Regions from separate parts of the Homo sapiens genome. Here region 2 is linked to region 1. The links come from fine-mapping of genetic effects on gene expression. A gene starts in region 1. The other region holds a variant in brackets. All regions are shown on one strand. Distances are between the middles of the regions. Region 1 holds the start of TMEM106A (transmembrane protein 106A). Region 2 holds the start of VAT1 (vesicle amine transport 1).

What was found.
Region 2: its variant is fine-mapped to the expression of TMEM106A in blood mononuclear cells (TOPMed, PIP above 0.99).

Annotation. Positions count from the first base shown.
Region 1 is chr17:43,203,371-43,220,410 of GRCh38, reverse strand. It overlaps TMEM106A (transmembrane protein 106A), which reads right to left and starts at 8,536. Exons shown (of 9, transcript NM_145041.4): 1 at 8,489-8,536; 2 at 8,017-8,184; 3 at 7,159-7,390; 4 at 6,520-6,583; 5 at 4,470-4,623; 6 at 3,822-3,962; 7 at 3,671-3,714; 8 at 3,099-3,152; 9 at 370-2,730. The coding sequence starts at 7,369. The coding sequence ends at 2,610. NBR1 (NBR1 autophagy cargo receptor) reads right to left here. Exons shown (of 21, transcript NM_005899.5): 20 at 16,625-16,730; 21 at 8,723-10,510. The coding sequence ends at 10,337. RefSeq lists an enhancer at 3,347-3,641.
Region 2 is chr17:43,018,318-43,028,062 of GRCh38, reverse strand. It overlaps VAT1 (vesicle amine transport 1), which reads left to right and starts at 5,678. Exons shown (of 6, transcript NM_006373.4): 1 at 5,678-6,127; 2 at 9,264-9,471. The coding sequence starts at 5,741. It overlaps RND2 (Rho family GTPase 2), which reads right to left and starts at 2,832. Exons shown (of 5, transcript NM_005440.5): 1 at 2,614-2,832; 2 at 2,016-2,103; 3 at 771-880; 4 at 1-2. The coding sequence starts at 2,715. RefSeq lists a silencer at 2,869-3,008. The variant G/A (reference allele first, on the strand shown) is at 5,872.

The DNA of each region.
Region 1 (17,040 bases):
CATTAAGGAAACAGTTTCTGCCAGGTGCAGTGGCTCATGCCTGTAATCCCAGCACTCTGGGAGGCCGAGGCGGGCAGATCGCTTGAGGCCAGGAGTTTGAGACCAGCCTGGCTAACATGATAAAACACTGTCTCTACTAAAAATACAAAAATTAATTTGGTGTGGTGGTGCATGTCTGTAACCCCAACTACTCAGGGAGTCTGAGGCACGAGAATCACTTGAACACAGGAGGCAGAGGTTGCACTGTGCCAAGATCATGCCATTGCACTCTAGCCTGGGTAACAGAGCGAAACTGTCTCAAAAAAAAAAAAAAAGAAAAGTTTGTGAAATAGGGAGTATCCACTAGCTCCCTTCCCACTCCCAGGAGACTTTTTTGAACACTCTTAAGTATAGTTTATTGAATACAATATAAATACTTCACATTTGGCAGTCTATACACAGCAGCTCCAGCCTGGCTTCCCTGGACTTTTGCGCTCTTGCCAACACCACCCTGACCTCAGCTTGGAGACAGCAGTCTCCTTCCTTCCCCTCGTTCCCCCAGCCAGCTAGTTACCAAGTTCTGTCACCACTTCTCCCTCTCCATGCATCCTACTTCAAAATTAGCTTTCCCTGCTCACCTGTGTTCATCGTTCTGTCTGAATGATAAAGAGACAGCCATCTTTTTTTTTTTTTTTTTTTGAGACAGAGTCTCGCCCTTGTTGCCCAGGCTGGAGTGCAGTGGTGCGATCTTGGCTCACTGCAACCTCTGCCTCCCAGGTTCAAGTGATTCTCCTGCCTCAGCCTCCTGAGTAGGTGGGATTACAGGTGTGCGCCATTACGCCCAGCTCTTTTTTTTTTTTTAAACGGGGTCTTGCTAATGTTGCTGCTCATGTTAAACTTGAATTCCTGGGCTCTAGAGATCCTCTCACCTCAGCTTCCTGAGTAGCTGGGACTACAGGTATATACCACTGCACCCAGCTGTAAGACCAAGCCACCTTTAATGAACAAATATCCTTCCTGTTCTGCTAAAGTACAGAAACTATTTCTACTAGGAGCCAGTGGGAACCTAGGGGTTATCTGGAGCTTAGCTCCAGCTAAGTGACAGGAAAGGGAGGGTCTAGACCAGTCCCTGCTGATGTGCTGCTCCACATTGTCAAAGCCCAAGGAGAGATGAGGCCTCTGGGACCAGAGAGGGCCCTGGTGCTAAGGTGGTGGTGGAACAGAACCCAGCAGCCTTCAGCTGGATACTGATAGCTTCATCTCCTGAAGGCTTTCAGATGACAGCAGCTGGACCCACCGTTTTACCTACCTGTGTCCACTCACATGGGCTCAGGATGTGGACTTAGAGGCTCTCCTTTAATAAATATCTTATACAATGATTCTGTCTTTGGCTCTGTTTTTCCTGTGCAGGCCCGCAGAGTGCCAGGTGCCTCTCTCCCCTCCTCTACTATTTTGGCTCCTGCTATGAAAAGAATAGTAAAACTACTTTATAGAGAGGAGACGCTTTAGCTGGAGAACAACTCTGTCTTCCTAGGAACCAGGGACAGTCAATAACCAGAAAGGACAGAGGGCTAAAGGGCCTTGGCTAATCTTACTATCAGATGGGTGGCAGACAAGTTACCAGAGAGAAGCAGACTATCACTTTTTCACATGGTCAAAGCAGATAGGCACAGAAAAGCATCTATGATCCCCTGAAAGTCCTTGGAGATGGCACTGGATATCCCCAAATTTTCTTATCAGAGGGTAGAAAACTTGAAAAGAGTCTTTTTTTGAGACAAAGTTTTGCTCTTTTGCCCAGGCTGGAGTGCAGTTGCACGATCTTGGCTCACTGCAACCTCTGCCTTCCGGTTTCAAGTGATTCTGCTGCCTCAGCCTCCCGAGTAGCTGGGATTACAGGCGCATGCCACCACACCCAGCTAATTTTTGTATTTTTAGTAGAGACAAGGTTTCACCATGTTGACCAGGCTGGTCACGAACTCCTGCCCTCAAGTGATCCACCCACTTCGGCCTCCCAAAGTACTGGGATTACAGGTGTAAGCCACTGCGCCCAGCCGGCAGGTCCATGTTTTAAAAGCCAGATAAAACTACAGCTCTCTCCACATTCAGACGGGACAGCCAGCCCTGATGGAGCTGGGGTGAAATGCCCCCTTCAGACTGACCAGGTGCTCAGTACAGAAAGGCCAGGTGCCACTCCAGGGAATCTAAGGTGCCTCAAGAAAATGCCAGGTCAGATTTTCCTCAAGAAAGACCAGCCAGGCACAGGCTCACATCTGTAATCCAAGTGCTTTGGGAGGCCAAGAAGGGAGGATCGCTTGAGCCCAGGAGTTCAAAACCAACCTGGACCAACAGTGAGACTCTGTCTCTACCAAAAAAAAAACAAAAAACTAACCAAGGGCAGAATCTGATGGCAGCCCCTGAAAGAATCTGGGGGAAACTGGAGGATATGAGTGTGTGTGTATGAAGTTAACTTCAAAGCAAGCTTCCTGTGCTGAGGGGGTGGGAGGTAAGGGTGTGATGAGGCAGGGCTTCTCCTTTGGCAAAGCCTCTGTAGTCCTTCCTTAGTCACCAGGGAGTTGTGGGAGATATAGACCAGGGTTGCAGGTGCCTGGAGTACAGGGACAGCAGACAGGTCATGGTGGGTGAGGGGTCAGCTGGTGGGGCACAGATGCGTTTCCTCGGCAGTCCACATATTCATAGCTCTGAAAGACCAGCTGCTCTGAATGGCTCAGGTATGAACAGGTCAGGGTGCCCCTGGAGAGGAAGCAGGCCTTGTTGCCATGGCTGGGAGGAAAAGGAAAGCTCTGGCCCCATTATACTGTCTGGGGGTGGGGAGCGGGGAGCTCCCTCATTTGCCCTTCCCTCTGGCTCCCCACTCTGCCAAGGTACCTGGGACAGCTGCCCCACCTGTTTTCCAGCAGCTTCCAGACAGCCCTATGCCTGTTGCCCCTAATAACTTATAGGCAAGGTGAGACTCAGAAAAGGGGCTAGACTTGCTATTCCCAAGAGCCAACAAAGATTCATGGGGTCAGCTTGGAAGACTCTCTGCCCATGAGGTGTAGCTGAGTGAGAATGAAGTCAGAAGTGAGAGCAGGGATACCAGAGCTCCAAGCTCTACTTACTGGATGTGCAAAAGCACATGGTGGACTTTGATTTCCAGCCAGGTACAGATTTTGCTGAGAGAGAAGAAAAGAGAACGTGGGACCACGTGTCACATGGAGCAGCCTGTCAGCTCAGAAGATGCCTGCAGGTCCCAGTTTCCTTACCCCACAGAACTCTTTCCTTCCATCAGGTGCCCCCAAAATGTCACTCCCACCCCTTCCCACCCTTCAGGTGAGTGTAGCAGCATGGCTGCACTATCACTCTGACCTCCACTCACTTGGCCCAGGCACATGCTGGACCCCCATTCAGGAGACAGACAAAACATTCTTCTTCCTCAGCAATGCAGGCTGAAGAGCCCAAGGTCACATATTGTAAAGATTAACCAAATTCCAGCCTGTTTTTCATTCTAATCAAGGTCCAAACAAGCAGAGGCTGGGGACCCTGAACCCTTGCTTATTACATTCTCGGCCATGGGAGGGCAGGCCAGATGCTGGCTGAAGAATTTGCTAAGCAATCAGGAAAGCTGGTGGGTATTAATTGGGTCCCTAAGCCAGGCAAGTGGCTAGGGGAGAAGAGATCAAGGGGTACTCACTATGTGTTTTCATCCCGTATCTTGGTAGCTACTGCGTAAAACATCTGTCAACCAAATGGGCACAGGGTTAGCCCCAACTCCAGCTGCCCCTTTCCCACTACCACACATCCACACACCAGTGGGCAGGGCTGGCCAGGGAGAGGGGAGTCACCTGTTCACTGGCCAAAGGGCCAATGTGTAGGAGAAGGTTGTTGGAAACCTGCCCCACCACGAGGGACAGGTGCAGAACCTCGAGGGTCAGCTGTGTCACCATAATGGGGTAGTAGTTGCCATTGGAGATGTTTAAGATATTCTGGGGATGAAGACAAGGGAAGGGAGGAGTGAAGATGGCCCATCCTTAGGAAAAGCCAAACAGTTGCAAAAGCCTGGCTGTCTGGCCTGAGCCCCATCTACCATGACAAGCTTCAGGTGCAGAGGATGAAAACTGGGAGCCCCTTGGAGGGGCATTGAATGGTGAGGGGTCAACTTTACGAAGTTAAGCTGCCTCAGGATCCAGGTCCATCCTGTACAGCTTCTTTCCATTCAGTCCTGTCCATCCAGAGAGTCTCAGGCACTGTCACCCCACTCCACCCCTGTGGTTTACTTATCTGGCCCGGATTCTGACCCCTTACTGTGTAGAGTCCCAATCCTTACCATCTGTCATGGAGCTCATGGTTGCTCCTACTTCTCTTCAGGCTCCCAACACCCTCTGGGTGCCATAAGATCTCTGGCTTCCCATGCCCAGGGTCATAACACTGGACAAAGGTTACAGCGAAGTATTGCTAGGAAGGGGGGTTTGGAGCCAAGGGCACCCACCCACCGTTATGTTGAGGTAGATATCAGCCTCATCAAAGGCCACTGTGGAGGAGTTGAGGCCTGCAGGCTGCACAATGACGGACCGGGGAAACAGGAAAAAGACGATGAAGGAGGAGGTCACCAGGCAGATGAGCACGGCCAGGAACACAAAGAGCTTCCTGTGGGAAAGCAGGACCCAGGATGGAGGAATGGAAAAGTCTGAACACCAAGGAAACTCGGAGAGGGGGTTCAGACACTCCTCTCCATATACAAAGCTTTCCCCTGCACACTACCCCAACAACATTTAGCTCCCCAGATGTGGCCCGGAATGAGTAGGAGCACAGGATTGGCAGGCAGGCAGCCTGGTTTCCACTCCCAGATCTCTGTTCCCATTGACCCAATAACATGGAGCAGCCCACTTAGCCTCCTTAAGTCTCAGTTTCCTTGTTGGTAAAAGGCAGATAATTGTACTGACCTCACAGAATTTGTTATCGGCTAATATATGAAAAAATACTAATCACAGGTCCCTGCACATGGCAAAAGCACAATGAATGCTAGTTATTATCACTAGAAGAAATAAGTCCATATTTGGAAGTTCTGAATTTTAACATTCAGAACAGGACACCATCCATCCAATTCAAAATTCAGATATGCATTAAAGAGATAGTACTTTGTTAGTATCTTATGATGTGCACTGCTAATTTCTTTTTTTTTTCTTTTTTTTGAGATGGAGTCTTGCTGTGTCGCCCAAGCTGGAGTGCAGTGGCACGATCTCGGCTCACTGCAACCTCCACCTCCCGGGTTCACGCCATTCTCCTGCCTCAGCCTCCTGAGTAGCTGGGATTACAGGTGCCTGCCACTATGCCCGGCTAATTTTTGTATTTTTAGTAGAGGCGGTTTTGCCATGTTGGTCAGGCTGGTCTCAAACTCCTGACCTCGTGATCTGCCCGCCTTGGCCTCCCAAAGTGCTGGGATTACAGGGTTTTTTTTTGTTTTTTTTTTTTTTTCAGATGAGGCCTCGCTCTGTTGCTCAGGCTGGAGTGCAGTGGCATGATCTTGGCTCACTGAAGCCTCCACCTCCTGGGTTCAAACAATTCTCCTGCCTCAGCCTCCCAAGTAGCTAGGATTACTGGTGTCTGCCACCACGCCCAGATAATTTTTCTATTTTTAGTAGAGACAGGGTTTCGCCATGTTGGCCAGGCTGGTCTTGAACTCCTAACCTCAGGTGATCCGCCTGTCTTGGCCTCCCCAAAGTGCTGGGATTACAGGCATAAACCACCACGCCCAGCCTGATTTCTAATTCTGGTATAGTGGGGTGGCGGAGAGGGTTCGGCTTGGTGGTGACTCCCAGGTTGACACCAGGACCTTGGGAGGAGGTTGAGGGAGCTCCATGTCAGATGGACTCAGATCACAAACACAGTAGGCCCCAGGTCTGCCTGAGGTTCTGAAGTATCCCAGAACAGCGGACAATAGGTTTTTCATCTCTACTAGAAGAAAAACAAGCAAATCTGAACTGCCTCAGCAAGGGAGGTGCTTAAGAAAAATAACATTTTCAAATCAATTGCAGCCAGGGCCACATGCTTGTTCCCTCCTTCCTGGGAGGACTTGCAGAGCTACCAGATCCTTCCTGTCTTGGAGAGGGGGCCATGCTTTCTGGAAGCAGTGATGCTTAAGGAAGCCCACCAGGTGGCCTCAAGTGACATCTGCTGTGCCCACAGCTGCTGCTTTTTTCTTTCTTTCTTTCTTTTCTTTTTTTTTTTCTTTTTTTTTTTTTTTTTGATAGAGATGGGGTTTCACCATGTTGCCCAGGCTGGTCTTGAACTCCTGAGCTCAAGTAATCTGCCTGCCTTGGCCTCCCAAAGTGCTGGGATTACAGGCATGAGCCACCACACCCGGTCCAGGAGCTTCTAAATCAGGAAAAAATCCTTGGACGTAAGGAGCTGGTACCTCTGAGGCTCAGGCTTTCTATGGAAGAACTAATAGGAAGAAATTAAGGGAGATCAAAACAGGGGAGACAAAGGGAGCAGCCCCCAGGGGCAATGGCTTGTGAAGCTAGGGGAGGAAGGGGGGCTTACGTGTGCTTGGGCTTCAGCCTCTGGTCCCCATAGGGAATGAGAGCCACCAACTGCTTCTCCAGCTCTAGAGAGAGAGAAGGTGAGAGGGAGGGCCAAGATGCAACTGTGACAAATATTTACTGTGCCAGCTTCCCAGAAGCACGCCTCCACCCACACCATAGAGCAATGTTAGAAACATGCCACATCTGCCCCAGAGCAGGACTGGAAGCACTGGACTCTGCTACCAAAGTTGGCAGCTCAGCTTTGCCATCTCTAGAATGGAAGTGAGATTTCCACTAATAGGTATGAAGAATCTCTGAAAGTCACCAGCAAATCAGAGATGCCCAGCATCTTTGGAAAGTTCATTTGTAACTTCCTGAACTGAATGAATCCTAGGACACACAGTGTTGCTCAGAAGCACAGTGGCTAGAATCCTTCTTTCCCACAAGGGGCTGGAGAATACAACCAGGGAAGGAGGGCAGGTTTTTGCAGGGAACCCAAGGATAGTTAAGTATCTCCCTGGCCAGCCTGAGACTGGGAGGTCAAGAGCTGGGAGCAGATCTAACCCCATCCAAGGAGACTCAGAGGGGCTGCCCCAGGCCAACAGGCTAAGAACTTTCCCTGGATTCCAGGCTATTTCCAGAGCCTTGGGCCACTCACCTTGGGGAATCTTGCCACTGCCCTGGCAGGTGGGACAAGTCACGAAGCTGGCATCAGCAGTTCCTTCACAAGGCACACAGGAACAAAAAGACTTGCTGCTACCGGTGCTGGAGTAGTTGACAGCCTTGCTGCCAATGGCTGGTTTGGAGGACAGGATTGACTTGTTCTCATCCTCCCGCCAAGAGCCCAGCTGGGAAAACGTCTTACCCATTCTTCAGGGGCGGGGGTTTCACTAATGAGAAAAGACCAAAGTTCAGTGCTAAGCTTGTTAGCACTGACGCCAGATGTAATTTTGGTTTGAAGTTCTCAAGACTGGCAAGGAGCTTCACCACAGTTTAAGCAAGCTCAAGCCTAAGGAAGATAGGATGTGAAAAACTGGGTGGTCACATGGGACTCTCAGAAGTCTCAATGCATTTCGACTCCTTTCATTATTTTAAAAGAGACCAATCTGCCTACAAAAGGGAAAACAAAAGAAAAGCAGAAGTTACTTCACTTTAAGGAACTTCCATAAGTGATTGTCAGAGCATTTAATTTTTCTCTGGAAAAGTTGCTGAGCTGTCATTCAGTTTAAGGGAAGGAAGTTGGATAGGGCAGAAAAGAGATTCTTTGAATCAAGGAGAGAGGAGGCCAGACTGGTCACAGGTGTGGTTAAGACCCCTATCTAAAGAAGCCCTGGGAGAAAGCAGACACCTCACTGCTTTCTGAGGCGGGGTAAGAAAGCCTGAGGAGGGTCATAGTGATACCAGGGTCTGTCTTTCACTAGGAAAACTCAAGGCTAAATCTGGACTCTGTGTGACAGAACGAGGCCGGCAAGTGAGCCACACAGATCTTTCTGGGCTAAAATATAGGGATGCTCACCTTGTTCAGGTCTGGGATCCCAGGCTCCTCAGCCGCACGAGGGCGAGACTTCTGGAGTGCGTCTTTGGGGAGAAGGGCCTCTAAGGGCAGAGTGGGCTGGGCTGGGCTGAGCTGAGCTGGGCGGTGGTGGGGAGAAGCACCGCCTGGGGCCGGCAACCGGCCGGAGTCCTAGGGGAACGAATGTGCCGCACTGGAGAGTGGGGATAGTAAGGACGCTGACCTCCCCGAAGGGCCAAGCCGATTCCTGGGCTACATGGGGGCTCTGCCATGGGCCGACCGGGTGGAAGCGGACGGAGAAGGTGTGACTTCATTAAGGGAGGATTTCAAGTCCCACCACACACCCCTAGAGGCCGTTAGTCAAGCTTGGTACCCGTGCGGGGGGCGCCTGTGTGTTGGGCGAGGAGGCGGCAACAGGAGGTGTCTTGACCTCCGAAAGGTAAAGTAGGTATAAAGGGTCTAGGGAGGGCCTTACCCGCGGACGACTGCAGCGACAGAAACGGAAGAGAGTGGAATCGAAAATGCGGGAGCGAACACTCCCCTCAAGCTTTGACTCAGTGCCCAGGGAAGTCCCGCCCCAGCCCCTAAGGGCCCACCCCCCCGTCCCCCGGTCCGCCCCTTCGCCACGCAGCAGCCTGAGACGCTGCCAGCTCTTCAAACGTTACCCGAGGGCCCGGACGCTGCTTCCGCAAGGACTAGCCAGTCCGGGTAGGAATTTCCAAGAACATTTATTTCACCATTCTTTAGGTGGTTATGTACAAGTACATACATAACCAGGAGAGCAACCCGGGCCCTCCTGGCCCTCGATTATAAAACTCCGATGGTCAAGACAGGTCCCACCCATCAACCCAATTACACCCTGCCGCTCCACCTTCTACCCGGAAGCCCCGATTAAAACGTTTTAAATAATGAACGGCCTGGCTGGCTTGCAGTTTGAATCCTGGTTTATTTAAGTAGCATTCAGGAGTTATACTGTAAATAAACATCATTATGGCTAATGACTAATTAAAATCACCATTCATTACAAATACCAACCAGGTTAGATAATACTATTAACTATCTTTTCCCCTTCGGTCTGGGGTTCATATTCTTCCTTTTCTGGAAGTCATTTTCATGGATAAAATATTTAGCATTTTTTGTTACCTCTTCCTTCACCAACTGTACTCAACACACTTCTGTAAACAGAGTGAGAACCTGGGTTCATGGACAAGCTCTTTTCCACTTATCTTCGGGTTAAACCAAAACTTTTTCAGCAACTTTGCCCCTGTCCAAGTTTTGCAGAACACCAGCTGCCTCTTCCTGTTCTAGGCATTCTAGGGCTAGATACCTGTGAACGGACTTCAAGCATTAAAGAAGTCATCAGCATTTCCTATACCTCACACACACTCATTTGCCCACCCTGAACTTCACTGACATTAATTTAGGAGCCTGCCTTTTGCCTTTCACATGTTTCTATTTCCCCCACTGTACTGTAAAATAAGATCTGCCCTGACATTAAGAAAAAAGGCAACTGTTAAATTTACTTTTCCCTTTAAATAACGGGATTTTTTCCTTTTCTATAAGATTAGCAAAATATTTCACAATACCTATATTTTTTCCCTTAAATAAAAATGTATGCAAAATTACTATAATAGACATTGCTCAATAGGTGCTGGTAGGTTTATCAGCACACTCTTCCTCCTTTCATTGAAATGCGGAGATTCCCTTGAAGTTGGATACTCTTGAATGCACCATGGAGTCTTTAGAAAGCAACGGTGCCAATTATTAAGTATTGCAGGAAAATTACTTTCTCCTTGAGAGAGGAAGAGTAACAACATTTCTATCATGCTCTGGGTGTTATTTCAATGCCAAATAACTATGAAGCTTGAGGTGGATTACAGAAATTATGAGAATAAGAATTATGAGAATAATTCTTAAAAACAACTTCCGAGGTTAATGTCTTTCAAAACCTGAAAATTAACAGATATCCCCATAAAAAATCCACATTAGCCAAAGAAAAATACTCAGTTTCAATAAAAGCAGAAAGAAAAATGGTTCTATATGAAGTTGAAGTTACACTTGTCAATGCACTAAAATAGTTTTATCCAAATCAACTGAAAAACTGTCTTCATACTATTCATCCAATGTCTAAAGTGAAAATTTAAGTTCTGGTCTTTAGTTTGCTCCCCAAAATACTGTAGCAGGTATTGTCTTGGTAACTCAACGATGGGCTCTATACAGATTCATCAGATTAAAAATAAGCAAGGGCTTCTATCCCATACCCCAATGACAGAATAAAGATCATCTCTGAGCAGCAGGCAGTTATTTAATACAAGGTCACTCCTCAATAGCGTTGGCTGTACCAGTCGTTGTTGTTTAACTGAAGAAGTTCTGTCACAACCTGCAGGATATTGTAATTGTGTTTCTTCAGCAGCCGTAGGTTCAGCTGCCTGTCACAGAATCCCATTTCAAAGAGATGGGCCATCAGGGCTGCTGTCTGATCTTCAGAAATTATTGGCTGTGTAGAGACAAGCAAAGCAAAAAAAAAAAAAAAAATTCTGTATAATTTAAATGTTTATTTTATACATTTGTATCATCTTGCAAGCATACTAGTCTTTCCAGATTTATTCAAAGTACTAGGTAATTAGATTCAAGGCTATGGCACTCCTGTGTACTTGATACCAACGGTTCGGACTGGGAAGGCCCTATTTTAGATTAGTTATCTGTGTACTTGAAGGAGGAGAAAAGGGAAACCGGGGAGCTAATGAACTGTACTTAGAACCAGGAGAATGCTTCACTCGGGGCTTTCAGGAAGAAGCATTTTTTGGCCAGATGAAGGAATGACAGCAAGCCCCAGAGACCCTGTGAACATAAGTGTAATTGTGATGATGGGGGAAGTATGAGCAAGATAAAAGTGTTACTGAAAGATGCTATGGGAAATTTTGTCAGATATGCAGAGGAGCTGGACAAAAAAAACAGCTTGGGAAATTACAACCTGGGAAGGCTTCTTGATTTTTTCTCCTCCAAAAGAATAGGTAAGAGGGGCTGGGTGCGGTGGCTCACACCTGTAATCCCAGCACTTTGGGAGGCTGAGGCGGGCGGATCATGAGGTCAGGAGATTGAGACCATCCTGGCTAACACAGTGAAACCCCATCTCTACTAAAAATACAAAAAATTAGCCAGGCGTGGTGGCAGGCGCCTGTAGTCCCAGCTACTCGGGAGGCTGAGGCAGGACAACGGCGTGAACCCAGGAGGTGGAGCTTGCAGTGAGCCGAGATCGCGCCATTGCACTCCAGCCTGGGTGACAGAGCGAGACTCCATCTCAAAAAAAAAAAAACAAGAATAGGTAAGAGGAAGTTAACATTCATTCATTCAAGCCCTGTGGTGGAAGCATTACCTTCCTAAATCCTTAAACGCTTGTTTTGTTGTTGTTGTTGTTTTGTTTGTTTTTTGAGACAGGGTGTCACTCTGTTCCCCAGGCTGGTGTGCAGTGGTGTGAACACAGCTCATTGCAGCCTCAACCTCCTGGGCTCAAGTGATCCTCCTGCCTCAGCCTTCCAAATAGCTGGGACCACTGGTCTGCGCTACCACGCCCGGCAAATTTTTAAATTTTTTACTAGAGATGAGGTTTCCCTATGTTGCCCAGGCTGGTCTTGAACTTCTGGGCCCAAGTGATCCTTGAACTTTGGTCTCCCAAAATGCTGGGATTATAGATGTGAGCCACCTCGCCTGGCCTCTGGTTCTGTTATTATCCCAATTTCACAGACTGGGGATACTGAAACTGTGCAGCAGAAAGATTATTAACTTGGGAGGCAGATAGGCTTAGACTCAAACCCTAATCTTCCATTTACTTACCAACTGTGCTATCAATTCCTTTATGAACTGAAGATATATCATACCTCCTACTTTGCAGGGTTGTTGAAAAAGTATGTAAAGATGAGAACAGTATGCAAACATGTTAAGCATTTCCCTCCAAACCTGATTCCACTGTTCCATTCTACCTTCTTATTTCAGAATAGATTATCCATCCTCCTTTGCAGGTTAATGGAATGTACCTTGCATTGTATCTTATTACCTCTCACCACTTCAGAAATCTTTCTCCATCTCCAATCTGTCTTCTCATCTTTATCATTAACCTCTTTCACTGCTGGCTTGCCCATCTCTAAAGTCTCACCCAACTTTAAAAATGCTTCCTCTTGTCTTATGTATCCTAGCTTCTGCCTGTTGTAGCCTGTCTATTTGAAAGTGTGGCATACTTCTACTCTCAAATTCCTCACCACCAGTTCATATCTCTCTGTAGCATCTAACACCGTTGACCATGTCCCCCTTATTAAAACACCCTTCCTTAAGTTCCAGCATAGAACTCTCTCTCTTCATTTTCCTCCTAGTTCCCAGCTTTCTTTCAGAGTATTCCTTTCCCTGATCCTTAAAGGTTGCTTCTTGCTTTCCCCATTATTCCTGGATCATCTCATTCCATCAGATGGCTTCTGCTATAATCTGTAGGCAAGTGACTCTCAAGCATGTATCACCAGGCCAAATCCCTCCCCTGTGATCTGGATGGATACCGTTGGCTTGCCATTATCTGTGGGTTCCTCATCTATGGATCAGTCACCAAAGGACTGAAAATATTTGGGGAGAAAAAAAGGAACACGTACAAACTTTTTTGTCATTATTCCCGAATACCGTATAACAACTATTCAGATAGCATTTACATTGTATTGGGTATTGTAAGTAATGTAGAGATGAAGTATATGAGATGGGCTGGGTGCAGCGGCTCAAGTTTCTCATCCCAGCAATTTGGGAGGCTGAAGTGGGAGGATTGTTTTGAGGCCAGGAGTTAGTTGCCCTAGGCAACACAGTGAAACCCCATCTCTTCAAAAAGATTTTTAAAAAACTAGCTAGGCATGGTGGTGCCCACCTGTAGTCCCTGCTACTCAAGAGGCTGAGGTGAGAGGATTGCTTGAATCCAAGAGTTCTAGGCTGCAGTGAGCTACAATCTAGTTATTGCACTCCAGCCTGGATGACAGAGCAAGACCCTGTATCTAAAAAACTAAAACTAAACAAGCAAGCAAGAAGATGTGCCTAGGTTATATATAAATACTACACTATTTTATATAAGGGACTTAAGCATCTATGGATTTCAGTATCCCACAGGGGGTCCTGGAGCCAACCGTCATAGATACTGAGGGACAACTATATATCCAGCTGCACTCTGGATATCTTTACCTTTACCTGGATATGCCACAAACTCAACACTGTCCAGCAAAACTGACCTAGTTCTCTTCTTCTGCTCTTAATGAATGGTACTAAGCCAGAAACTTGGGATTTATCCTTGACTTTTTCCCCTCCACCCCAAGATAGTGTCTGGCTTTGTTGCCCAGGCTGGAGTGCAGTGGCATGACCTCAGCTCACTGCAGCCTCTGCCTCTGGGGCTCAAGCTATTCTCCCACCTAAGCCCCCCAAGTAGCTGGGACTACAGGTGTGCGCCACCAAGTCCGGCTAATTTCTTTGTATTTTTTGTAGAGATAAGGTTTCACTATGTTGCCCAGGCTGGTCTCAAACTCCTGAACTCAAGTGATCTGCCCACCTTGGCCTCCCAAAGTGCTGAAATTACAGATGTGAGCCACCGTGCCCAGCCTATCCTTCTTTTTAGCCACTTAATCATCATCTCAAAGTTATGCCATTTCCATCTCTTAATTATCTTTTCTACCCTTCCTTTCCACCAATACATGGATTCTCTTAGGGATTTCCTTTTTTTTTTTTTGAGACGGAGTCTCGCTCTGTCACCCAGGCTGGAGTGCAGTGGCATGATTTCAGCTCACTGCAACCTCTGCTTCCCAGGTTCAAGCAATTCTTCTGCCTCAGACTCCCGAGTAGCTAGGACTACAGGCACGTGCCACCACGCCCGGCAATTTTTGTATTTTTAGTAGAGATGTGGTTTCACCATATTGGCCAGGCTGGTCTTGAACTCCTGACCTCGTGATCTGCCCGCCTCGGCCTCCCAAAGTGCTGGGATTACAGGCATGAGCCACCACGCCCAACTGGATTTCTTTACTGGCTCTACCAGCCTCTACAATGTAGCCGGTAATCTTACTAAAAACAGATCTCATCATGTCAATCACTTCCTTAAAACCCTTCAATTGCTCCTCCTATTAATTAGCCTTAAAATAAAATCCAAACCTCATAACACAGCATCCTGCCTACATATTTGGTCTGTTTTTCTTTTTCTTTTTTTTTTTTTTTGAGACAGAGTCTCGCTCTGTCACCCAGGCTGAAGTGCAGTGGCGCAATCTCGGCTCACTGCAACATCCGCCTCCCAGGTTAAAGCGATTCTCCTGCCTCGGCCTCCTGAGTAGCTGGGATTACAGGCACGTCACCACGCCTAGCTAATTTTTGTATTTTTAGTAGAGATGGGGTTTCACCATGTGGGTCAGGCTGGTCTCGAACTCCTGACCTCATGATCCACCCGCCTCAGCCTCCCAAAGTGTTGAGATTACAGGCGTGAGCCACCACACCCAGCCTTTTTTTTTTTTTTTTTTTTGAGACATGGTCTCACTCTGTCACCCACATTGGAGTTCAGTGGTGTGATCTCAGCTCACTGCAACCTCTGCCTCCCGGGCTGAAGTGATCTTCCCACCTCGGCCTCTTGAGTATCTGGGACCACAGGCGTATACCACCATGCCCAGCTAATTTTTTATGTTTTTAGTAGAGACAGGGTTTTGCCCTGTTGCCCAAACTGGTCTTGAACTCCTGGACGCAAATAATCGACCAGCCTTGGCCTCCCAACCTGTTGGGATTACAGGTGTGAGCCACCAAGCCCAGCCAGTCTTTTTTCGTCTTACTCCTCTTCTTAGACCGGATTCACACTCCATGCTCACATTTCCAAGTCTTTTTTACTGGCTACACTGTCTACAATACCCTTTCCCTCCCTCTTTCCTGATGAACATTTACTCCGTCCTTTAGGACTCAGTTCAGGCATCATCTACCAGAAAGCCTTACTTGGGCACACCAGGCTGAAGTGTTTCATCTGTCTGATAGCACTGGCATAGTATCTTTCTTTTTTTTGAGATGGAGTCTCACTCTGTTGCCCAGGCTGGAGTGCAGTAGCACAATCTCAGCTCACTGCAACCTCCACCTCCCAGGTTCAAGTGATTCTCCTGCCTCAGCCTCCCAAGTAGCTGGGATTACAGGCACACATCACCATGCCTGGCTAATTTTTGTATTTTTAGTAGAGACGGGGTTTCATCATGTTGGCCAGGATGGTCTCGAACTCCTGACCTCACGATCCGCCCGCCTCAGCCTTCCAAAGTGCTGGGATTACAGGCATGAGCCACCACACCCGGCCAGCATAGTATCTTACTATGTACTTTAAGTATCCATGCACCTCACTTGTTTCCCATAGTTTCTGGGCAAGACTCAGTGTCTTTTTTGTTGTTGTTTTTTGAGACAGGGTCTCGCTCAGTCACCCAAGCTGGAGTGCAGTGGCTCCATTGTGGCTCACTACGGCAGCCTCAACCTCCGGTGCTCAAGTGATCCTCCCACCTTAGTTTCCCAAGTAACTGGGACTGTAGGTGCATGCCATCATACTTTTTTTTTTTTTTTTTTAAGATGGAGTCTTGTTCTGTCGCCAGGCTGGAGTGCTGTGGTGCCATCTCGGCTCACTGCAAGCTCTGACTCCCTGGATCAAGCAATTCTCCTGCCTCAGCCTCCCGAGTAGCTGGGACTACAGGTGCCTGCCACCACGCCCAGCTAATTTTTGTATTTTTAGTAGAGACAGGGTTTCACCATGTTGGCCAGGATGGTCTCGATCTCCTGACCTTGTGATCCGGCCTGCCTCGGCCTCCCAAAGTGCTGGGATTACAGGTGTGAGCCACTGTACCGGCCATACTTATCTAATTTTTAAATTTTTTTGTAGAGATGGGGGTCTCACTATGTTGCCCAGGCTGGTCTCAAACTCCTGGGCTCAAGCAATCCTCCCACCTTGGCCTCCCAAAGTACTAGGATTACAGGTAAGAGCCACCATACCCGGCCAAGAACTGGTGTTTTATTCATGCCATAGTGCCAACACCTGGAATAGCTTCTCTCTATAGAAAATATTAATAGATCATCAATAATACATTCTTCTCTTTTCTTCCCTTAAGTAACTTGGCTAAAGTCATATAGTTAGAAAGTGGCAGAGTTGGCCAGGTGCGGTGGCTCACACCTGTAATCCCAGCACTTTGGGAGGCTGAAGCGGGAAGATCATGAAGTCACGAGATTGAGACCATCCTGGCTAACACGGTGAAACATCGTCTCTACTAAAAAATACAAAAAATTAGCCGGGTGTAGTGGCAGGCGCCTGTAGTCCCAGCTACTCGGGAGGCTGAGTCAGGAGAATGGTGTGAACCCAGGAGGTGGAGCTTGCAGTGAGCCGAGATCGCGCCACTGCACCCCAGCCTGGGCAACAGAGCGAGACTTCGTCTCAAAAAAAAAAAAAAAAAGTGGCAGAGTTGTGTTGTGTGTTAACTAAAGACTAAATCTAAAGCCTATGCCCTTTCCACAATGCCATGTTACTCTTCAACCCAGACAGATGCCATCACTTTCACTGGTGACATGGAGTTGAGATTCAGGAAAATAAAACACACACACTGACCTGTGCAGTGACTGGTGGCCCAGCAAACAGGGCCTTGTATGCAGAGGCAGCAACAGACAAAGCCCCCTTCACCAGTCCTCCAGCAATGCTGCTCCCATGATGGTGCCTGCAGAGGAAAACCAAATTATCTCCCCAAACAAACACAAATCATTACCTTTTTACAAGATAATCTGGGCTCTAATCCTTGGAATAAGATTTCCTTAAGAGAAAAAATTAGATGGAAAAAGAGAACACAATTGCTTTCATTATCAGCTTTATAGCTACAGATCATGGTTTGATGGAGGGCCCAGCTCTACTGGTGCAAGCAAGATAGGGGCACTGCAGGAAACACACCACTCTGGTAACCATGATGGCTCTCACTCCTAGCTGAAAATTAATGTGATCGAGGACACACAAGGATATCAACAGTTTGTCTG
Region 2 (9,745 bases), 190 kb after region 1:
CACTATGTAGGAGAAGAAAAGAGAATTGTGGAGGGGTGGAGGGAGGCACAGCGTGAGCCTTTGTGCCATGCCAGCAGTGTGCCCTCTCTTCCTCAAGCACGCAGAAACCATGTATCCCTCAGGACTCTCCCACATGAGGAAGGAGGTGAGAATGCTAGGCTTGGTTTGAGAGCAGGATGGGGTGAGAGAGAAGCAGCGGGGAGGAGAGGGCTGGCGTGGGCCTGTGGACTCTTCTCCCTCAGTGGCTATGAAGGGTCTGCCAGCCTGGAAACTTCCCATTCCCACTCGCCTTTCCCATACTCTCTCCTGGGAACAAATTTATCCCACCCTCCCCTCCCCCACCTGGGAACTGGGGCTGCCCTAGCTGACTTCTGTCCATTCACCCCTGGCTTTTGTCATGGAAACTGGGGCCTGGAGAGGAGGCCACAGGGCTTTCCTGAGCTCCAGGATCAGGCTTCCCATCCCATCCCCTCCATCTGGGACTCCCACTGCCAAGGAGTTGGAAGAGCAGAGAAGGAATCCTGTGAGTGCTTCTCCCTTCACTCCCCCACCTCCCCTAGCTGCTGTATCCAGCTCTGAGGACTTTCAGGAAAGGGGTGGCTGGGAGGGATGGGGGCTGGAGGCAGGGGTGGCAGGGATGAGAGCTTCACTCGCTAACCAGCTGATGGCCATACCCCAGCCATCACTCCCTCCTCCTGGCCCATGTTATGTCAGGACCATGGTGGTCTGGTCCCCCTCAGTCTAGCTGCCCTATTTCCCCAGGCTCCCACCTTCTTGAGAACACTGTCCAGTGTTTCTGGTCGGCTAATGTCGAAGCAGATGAGCACAGCATCAGAATCAGGATAGGCCAGAGGCCGGACATTATCATAGTAAGAGGAACCTGAAGGAAGACAGGGCATGAGGGGCCTGAGTGGATGGGAGGCCTGGAAGGGAATGGGAGACCTTACAGATCCTGGTCAAGGGATGCTGGGAGCAGAGAATGGAAAAGAGCAACCATTAATACCCATCATTAATACCCATCATGGAGTCTGGGTTTCCCAAGTGGGGGAGCGGGCAGAAGGGAGGTCACATGGTGGGAAACGGCTCTCTGCTTCCCTAGTGGTTTAAAAAGTAATAATTTTTATTCTTGACTGAGGTTTGGACCCCTTTGAGAAGCTCATAAAATCTATAGACATTCTCATAAAATGTTGCATGTGCTTTCTGGGCTTTGGCAGTCTAAAGCCCTGAAGGGAACTCTTGTAAAAATAAAAACCCTCCTTATGTTGGGAGGAGGAAAAGAGCAGTGGCAGGGAGAGCACTCTCCCATTCTCCTGGGACTTGACCTCAGATTTATCTAGTTCAATGGAGAGAAACAGCCTCCTGACCACCCCTCACTCAAGACATTCTAAATGTCTTTTCTGCTTTTTTATTTTTTGAGATGGAGTCTCGCTCTATCGCTCAGGCTGGAGTGCAGCGGCATGATCTCGGCTCACTGCAGCCTCCGCCTCCCAGGTTCCAGCGATTCTCTTGCCTCAGCCTCCTGGTAGCTGAGATTACAGGCACGTGCCACACGCCCGATTAATTTTTGTATTTTTAGTAGAGACGGAGTTTCAACCATGTTGGCCAGGCTGGTCTCAAACTCCTGACCTCAGGTGATCCCCCCACCCCAGCCTCCCAAAGTGCTAGGATTACAGGCGTGAGCCACCGTGCCTGGCCTCTAAATGTCTTTTCTAAACCCAGTCTTATCTCTGAAGGAACATGTTCCAAATTAAAAGCCATTCCTTCCCAACTTTCCCAGGTAGGCAGGACCCAGCTGAGGGGCTCAGATCCTAGGCTTTCTCCTTCAGGACATGGTTTCTGTCAGGCTCTGCAAGTTCTACCTCAGTTTCCCTGGATTTTAGCAGAATATTGATTTTTCCCTTCCTGTTGGAATTGGATGGATGGGCTGGGCTTACCTGGAACCTAAGGGTCTAACCAAGGGAGGGGACAGAGTGGGCCGCCTTGGAAGTCAGGGTGACCCCCAGGGACTTGGCTACCTGAAGTGTCCCACATGTTGAGCTCAATGCGGCGCTTGTCGATCTCAAAGCTCGCAGTGTAGTTCTCAAACACGGTGGGGACATAACTCTGCAGACACGGATGGATCCAGATGAGATCATCTCTCCAAGTCCTCACCCCAGATAAATGCCCTCCTCACTCCCACACCCCGTCCAGCCCAGCCCCTGGACACAAGTTGGTCTGGGATTGGGCAAAGGGGAGATCCCGGGAGCTCCTGCCCCCCCCCCCCCCCCCCCGGAGAATCTCTGCTAAGCTCCCAGACCTCCTCCTGTTCCCTTCTGGTCCCTTCAGCCCCCTAGTTCTTCCCCTCTCCATTGCCCAGGACCTCCGACATTCCCCTCGCCCTCCCTCCCGGATGCTCTGGTTCTCCCAAACCCCATCTATCTCACCCTGCTCCCTAATTCCTCCCACCCCAATCCTCTGCAGTCCTTCCTGAGCCCTCAAGGCCTCCCCGCGTCCTCCGACCCCCTGTCTCTTGTCCCTGGTTACCCGAGTACCCATTCCCATCCGTCGCCAGGGCCCCTGTCACCCACCCCCCAGCAGCCTTAGCGTCCCCCTCCCAAGACGCAGGTCCCTCACCCCGGGATAGGCGTCCTTGGCGAACACCTGCAGCAGCGCCGTCTTGCCGCACTCTGCGTCTCCCACCACCACGATCTTGCAGCGGCCGCTCTGCCCCTCCATGGTCCCGGCTACGCGCCGGTCCCCCACGCCACCCCTCTCCCGGGCCCCGCCGCCGCCTCCCCCGCCCCTGCAACTGCAGCCGCTCGGGCCGCCAACACCGGCATCTCGCGGGCCCGCGCCGAGCCCCCGCCCCGGGTCCGCGGCCCCCCCTCCGCCCCGCCCCCAGCCAGGCGGCCGCGCCCCCCCGGCCCCTCCTCCCACCCCCGCAGCCGGGGGGCGGGGCCCAGAAGATCTGGGCGGAGCCCTGGGAACAGAGGCCTCAGAGCCGGGGTCCAGCCCGCCGGTGTGGTCTGAGGGGCCCCTGCCGGTTTGGGACAGGCCGAACTGGGCTTATTTGACTTTCTCGGATATAAGGGCAGGTCAGAGTTCAAGCGAAGTTCTTAGGGGTAGAATATGAGCGGCACAAGCGCGAAGCTCGGGCCTGCTGTGTACCCACGCGTGCACGCAGGTGTACCAGTGCGGACAAGAGCTGGGGCAGCCATCCACTTCCTGAACACGGCGGGAGAGAGATGCTAAGGGGAAGGAGGGAGCCTCTTTGGTTTTCTCTCCCGCGTCCGCCTATGTCCTGGCAGGGGGTCTTGGGGAAATGGGAGGGTGAACCCCAGCACACCCACCCGGACGGTGGTGACATCATAGCTTTCCGTCCCCATGGCAACGGGCAGCCGGGTCTCCGGTTACATTGACTTAACCGCCGGCCTAGACTAGCAGAGAAGCGTGGACTGAGTTCCTCCAGCCAAGCACTGGGTGGAAAGTTTTGGGGGAGCTGCGTCCTCTGGTGGATGCTTGGGGACAAGGAGATAAGGAAGAGAAAGAACCAACCGCCAGAGTTGCTCTGCTGGAGCCAGAGCTAAACCCAAAAGTCAGGCTTGATTAAGAGTCTGACAATAGGCCGGGCGCGGTGGCTCACGCCTGTAATACCAGCACTTTGGGAGGCCGAGGCGGGCGGATCAAGAGGTCAGGAGATCGAGACTATCATCCTGGCTAACACGGTGAAACCCGCACGGTGGGCGCCTGTAATCCCAGCTACTCAGGAGGCTGAGGCAGGAGAATGGCGTGAACCCGGGAGGCGGAGCTTGCAGTGAGCCGAGATTGCCTCACTGCACTCCAGCTTGTGCAATAGAGTTTCGAAAAAAAAAAAGTGCTTTTTTATATCGAGGCAATTCGAGTCAATAATATATGCTGCAAATAATTCTGTAAAGATAACTAGAAGCTGGGCGCGGTGGCTCACGCCTGTAAACTCAGCACTTTGGGAGGCCAAGGCTTGCTTGCGTGCAGGAGTTTGAGGCCATCCTGGGCAACATTAGCGAGACCCTCTCTCTAGAAAAAAAAATCAAAACTTAGCTAGGTTTGGCCACTCTAGGCACGCTGCCTATGGGGTAGCCCTGCTCTGCAAAGAGCAGTAAAACATAAAGTTAGCCGGGCGTGGTGACACATGCCTGTGGTCCCAGCTATTCAGGAGGCTGAGGTGGGAGGATTGCTTGAAGCCGGGAGTTTGAGGCTGTAGGGAGCTGTGATCGCCCCACCTCGCTCAGCCTGGGTGACAGAGTGAGACCCTGTATCAAAAAAATAAAAATATAAATATAACTAGAGCACGCAGCATCATCACTATGTTACAGAAGGGAAAATGAGGAACAGAACGTTAACACCAAAGTCAGAAAGTTTTAAAGGCTTGGTCTCCATGCTTCTACTTTGCCACTGCAAGACCACAGTGAATTAAGTCTCATCCCTGCCTGGGTTAGATGTCAGAGCCTGAGACACAATGTAGTTGGACTCCAGTCCACAGGTGGCTGACTCCAAATCTGATATGAGTTAACTCCAAATCTGATGTAAGTTCAAGTTTTGGGACTGTTCCTTAACTTTTTTTTTTTTTTTTTGAGACGGAGTCTCGCTCTGTAGCCCAGGCTGGAGTGCAGTGGCGCGATCTCGACTCACTGCAAGCTCTGCCTCCTGGGTTCATGCCATTCTCCTGCCTCAGCCTCCCAGGTAGCTGGGACTACAGGCGCCTGCCACCACGCCTGGCTAATTTTTTGTATTTTTTAGTAGAGACGGGGTTTCACCGTGTTAGCCAGGTGAATCTCCTGACCTCGTAATCTGCCCGCCTCGGCCTCCCAAAGTGCTGGGATTACAGGCGTGAGACACCGCGCCCGGCCTTTTTTTTTTTCGAGATGGAGTCTCCCTCTGTAGCCCAGGCTGGAGTGCAGCGGCATGATCTTGGCTAACTGCAACCTCCGCCTCCTGGGTTCAAGCAATTCTCCAGCCTCCGCCTCCCTAGTAGCTGGGACTATAGGCACCTGCCACCATGCCTGGCTAATTTTTGTAGTTTTAGTAGAGCTGGGGTTTCACCATACTGGTCAGGCTGGTCTCGAATTCCTGACCTCAGGTGATCCACCCACCCGCCTCGGCCTCCCAAAGTGTTGGGATTACAGGCGTGAGCCACGCCGCCCGGCCCTTTTTTTTTTTTTTTTTAACAGGGTCTCACTCTGTTGCCCAGACTGGAGTGTAGTGGCGCGATCTCGGCTCACCTCCGCCTCCCAGGCTCAAGCGATTCCTCTGCCTCAGCCTCCCAAGTAGCTGAGATTACAGGCGCGCGCCACTACCGCCCGGCTAACTTTTTTATTTTTAGTAAAGACGGGGGTTTCACCATGTTGGCCAGGCTGGTCTTGAACTCCTGACCTCAAATGATCCACCAGCCTCGGCCTCCCAAAGTGCTGGGATTACAGGCGTGAGCCACCGCGCCAGGCCTATCCCTTAAAATAGTTTTTAATTTGAATAAGGTTTACTATGAATAAATAAATCACAGTCGGCTTGATCCCAAGAGCACAGACGTTCCTGGTGCCCCTTTTCGTGCTCTCCCAGCTTGCGCCACTATGGCCCTGGCCCTTTAAGGCTGAGCGCGAGGCCCCGCCTCGCCCGGCGCCCCGCCCCTCCCGCTGGATCCCGCAGCCGCGGCTCTTCCCGACGCGTTCCGCCTTCCCCAGCTGTGCACTCTCCATCCAGCTGTGCGCTCTCGTCGGGAGTCCCAGCCATGTCCGACGAGAGAGAGGTAGCCGAGGCAGCGACCGGGGAAGACGCCTCTTCGCCGCCTCCGAAAACCGAGGCAGCGAGCGACCCCCAGCATCCCGCGGCCTCCGAAGGGGCCGCCGCCGCCGCCGCCTC[G/A]CCGCCACTGCTGCGCTGCCTAGTGCTCACCGGCTTTGGAGGCTACGACAAGGTGAAGCTGCAGAGCCGGCCGGCAGCGCCCCCGGCCCCTGGGCCCGGCCAGCTGACGCTGCGTCTGCGGGCCTGCGGGCTCAACTTCGCAGACCTCATGGCTAGGCAGGGGCTGTACGACCGTCTCCCGCCTCTGCCTGTCACTCCGGGCATGGAGGGCGCGGGTGTTGTGATCGCAGTGGGCGAGGGAGTCAGCGACCGCAAGGTGAGCGGGTTGCGTAGGGCAGGGCAGGGCTGCGCAGGCCACTGGGCAGTGGGGCACGAGTGGGCGAGCGCCGGGGGTGTGGCAGGGCGGGAGAAACTGGCGCGGACCTGGGTGCACGAGCGTGGAAAGCGTAGCCAAGGAACTTGTGTTTGGGGGCTCCTGGAGAGCGGCATTTATGTGGGGAGGGGAGACGAAATTATCGCCCCTTCCCCAACCATTTTTAGTTGTGGCCGCCGCCCAGAAGCTGTGCTGGTGGGGGGGAAAACAATAAGGTGCCCATGCGCATGCGCACAACCACACTACCGTCCCCACCCCCCCCCCCCCCCCCCATTAAAACCACACCTGTACCCCTACCCACCAAACACTCTCTGGGTAATTGTGGTCTGTGACTATGAGTGACGGTTAGTGCCCCCTTTCCCCGAGGGAGCTTGAGGGGCTATGTCGTCGGGGTTGGGCGGGGGCACAGCGGCCGTGCCAGAGTCCTGGTCACATGCAGCCCCGTGGTCTGTGGGGGTGTGAGGCGGCCCCTCCCAAAGCAAGGCCAAAGAGACGAGACACGCCCATCACGGAGGAGAGAGAGCCTTTGCTACCCCACCGCCACCAGCCTTACACCGCCGATCTGATTTTGGGGTGGGGGAGGCGGGATTGGGTCATCCGATCTTTGTCTTGGGCTCTGTGTCTCCCGTGACTGCAGTATCTCCTCCTCCTGTGACTCAGCCCTCAGCCTTCGGGCCACGACCCGGGGCTGCCCTTGGGAATGCCTGGGGCGGGGAGTGGAAGGGGGGACCCACCTCTGCCTTCCTCCTGCAGAGGACCCCCACTTCAGAAACCCCAGTGCCAGGGGTTTGGACTGGAACGGAGAGGTGCGGCGCCTTGAACTGGTTGGCCAAGTCTGCAGGCCTGTTTCTCCTTCTCATTTATCATTAATCTTGGCCACAACCCTGGACACCAGAGAGCTCAAAATGATCAGCTTTTTGAGAGACCTGGGATGAGGCCTCAGCACGCCATTTGTTTAGAGGTTTCTTTTTTTTTTCTTTTTCTTTTTTTTTTTTTTTTTTTTTAGACGGAGTTTCGCTCTTGTTGCCCAGGCTGGAGTGCAATGGCGCGATCTCGGCTCACCGCAACCTCTGCCTCCCGGGTTCAAGCGATTCTCCTGCCTCAGCCTCTCGAGTAGCTGGGATTACAGGCATGCGCCACCATGCCTGGCTAATTTTGTATTTTAGTAGAGATGGGTTTCTCCATGTCGGTCAGTCTGGTCTCGAACTCCCGACCTCAGGTGATCTGCCCACCTCGGCCTCCCTAAGTGCTGGGGTTACAGACATAAGCCACTGCGCTTGGCCAGGAGTTTCCTTTTTAAATCAGACCCCTCAATGAGAGGCCCCACAGATGCAGCCTCTTGCAGACCTGCCAGCCCAATTCTGGAGCCAGGTTTGTTGGATTCATCCTGTATGCAAACAGCTTCTCCTTAAGGCTTTCCTCTGAATTCAGCTCTGGCCCCACCCTCAAACTGACTTCTAAATGATCCCACTCTTGAGCAGGCGTCTAAGAGGAATATTTTCGGGAGGTAGTTGTAGTTCATGTTACTGCTGAAGGCCACCCACCTCACCTCCCCTCCATACACTTTCCGCCTGGTAAATACAGGATATCCTGTCCAGGGCAAGAATCTGATGTAAGAGCCTGGATTCTGCGGGGAGGGCCCTTCCCTCTCTCTCCCTCCTCCTCCTTCCTGGTGTCTGGGTTGGGGAGGGGTCATGGCCCTGATTTGGATGGCCTGAGGGTTAGCATGAGCCAGGGTAAGTGAGACTTGTTCTGGGTCAAATCTGGGACTGGCCATGACCCTAAATGACCAATGCACTCCTCGCAGCTCTCCTGGGTTGTTCTGTATCTGCTAGTCCTGAGTCCCTGGGTGGAGGGCTTCCGTTCTTGTTCTCCAGACCTCATCTCAGGCCAGAACTTGGAAGGAAAGACCCCAGCATGCCCTCAGTTCTCGTATTCAGTGGAGTGTGGGGGCTTGAGGACATGAAAAAGGGCGTAAGTGGCAGTCCCATCCCCCTTCCCCATGGACCCTAACTCTTGTTAATATACAGAATTCCCATCATTCCTGGCAGGGATCAAGACAGACCCAGATTGTCCCAGAACAGCACCCACACCTCCCTCTTCATGCTCTTCAGAGAGCGCAGAGAAGTCTTTTCTCCTGACGCTCCCTCCTTTTCCCTGCCCTTCCCTTGACCCCACTTGCTAAGCTGGAGAGAAAGGTTCTGTTATCTTTGTCCCCTTTCCCTCCTGCACAGAGGCTCTCGTGGGGGTGGGGGGGAAGCCTTTTACTGCTGCGTAGGCCTCTGTAGCCCTTCTTGTCTGTTGCCCCTCCTGCACCATCTCTGAGTGAAGATGTTTTCTGGGCTCCCAGTGCTGGCTCAAACACACTTCTCCCGAGGTGACCACACCCTGCTGTAAGCGCTCAGAGAACTTTGCCTGCACTTTGGTATGGCCCTGACCACACAGTGCCGTCTTCTTTTGGTTGTGTGACTTCCTTGCTGCTATTATATTATTATTATTATTATTGTTAGCTAACATTATTAAGTGCTTATTATGTGCCAGACATTGTGCTAAAATTTTTTTTTTCCATTTGGAAAAACTGCCCTAATTGACAGATAAGAAAACTGGAGCTGGAAAAGTGGAGCTCAAAAAGATTAAGTAATTTTTATGCATCCGAAGTCACACAGTCAGTAAACAGTTGAGACCGCTTTTGTAACCACAGCAGTTTGATCTTTTCCACAATACTTCATGCTGCCCTAACTGTAAGCTTCTTGCATTCAGGGATCTTACACAATAGTGACATGTAAGATCTGTAAGAAGATGATAAGGATAGTATCTGCCTCAAAGAACTGATGTAAGGGTTAATTAAGCATTATATATAAAGCACTTGAAATCGGGCTCGGCCCTCAGTCAGCACTCAGTAAAGGTGAGTTGTTATTGTTGTTGATGATGATGTTATTATTATTATTATTACCATGACTATTGCTGCTTCTCCTGCTACTTCATTTGGAAGAAGGTAGCCTTGTACCTAGGGGGAAATCAGTAAATAGCCTGTGGGTGAATGAATGAGTGACTGAATGATACTCTTCTGTTCTTCAAGGCAGGAGACCGGGTGATGGTGTTGAACCGGTCAGGGATGTGGCAGGAAGAGGTGACTGTGCCCTCGGTCCAGACCTTCCTGATTCCTGAGGCCATGACCTTTGAGGAAGCTGCTGCCTTGCTCGTCAATTACATTACAGCCTACATGGTCCTCTTTGACTTCGGCAACCTACAGCCTGGCCACAGCGTCTTGGTACACATGGCTGCAGGTGACAGGTCCCCTCACTTTATCACCCCTTACCCCACCCAGATTTCCTTCCAGGCCCCTTCCCTGCAGCCTGTCTGGGTTGTTGTCATGGCAACACCAGGCTGCCTTGGCCTGTGGCTCCCAGAGGCCTCTGCTGTGTAGTTGCCGTGGTAACATTCAGGCACCAGGTCTAGTCTGGTGTGCTATCCTTAGCAACGTGCCCTCACCCCACACCCCCACCTCTCTAGCTACCTTCCCCACCACTTCTCAGTCATGGAAATTAGACACGGCCCTAA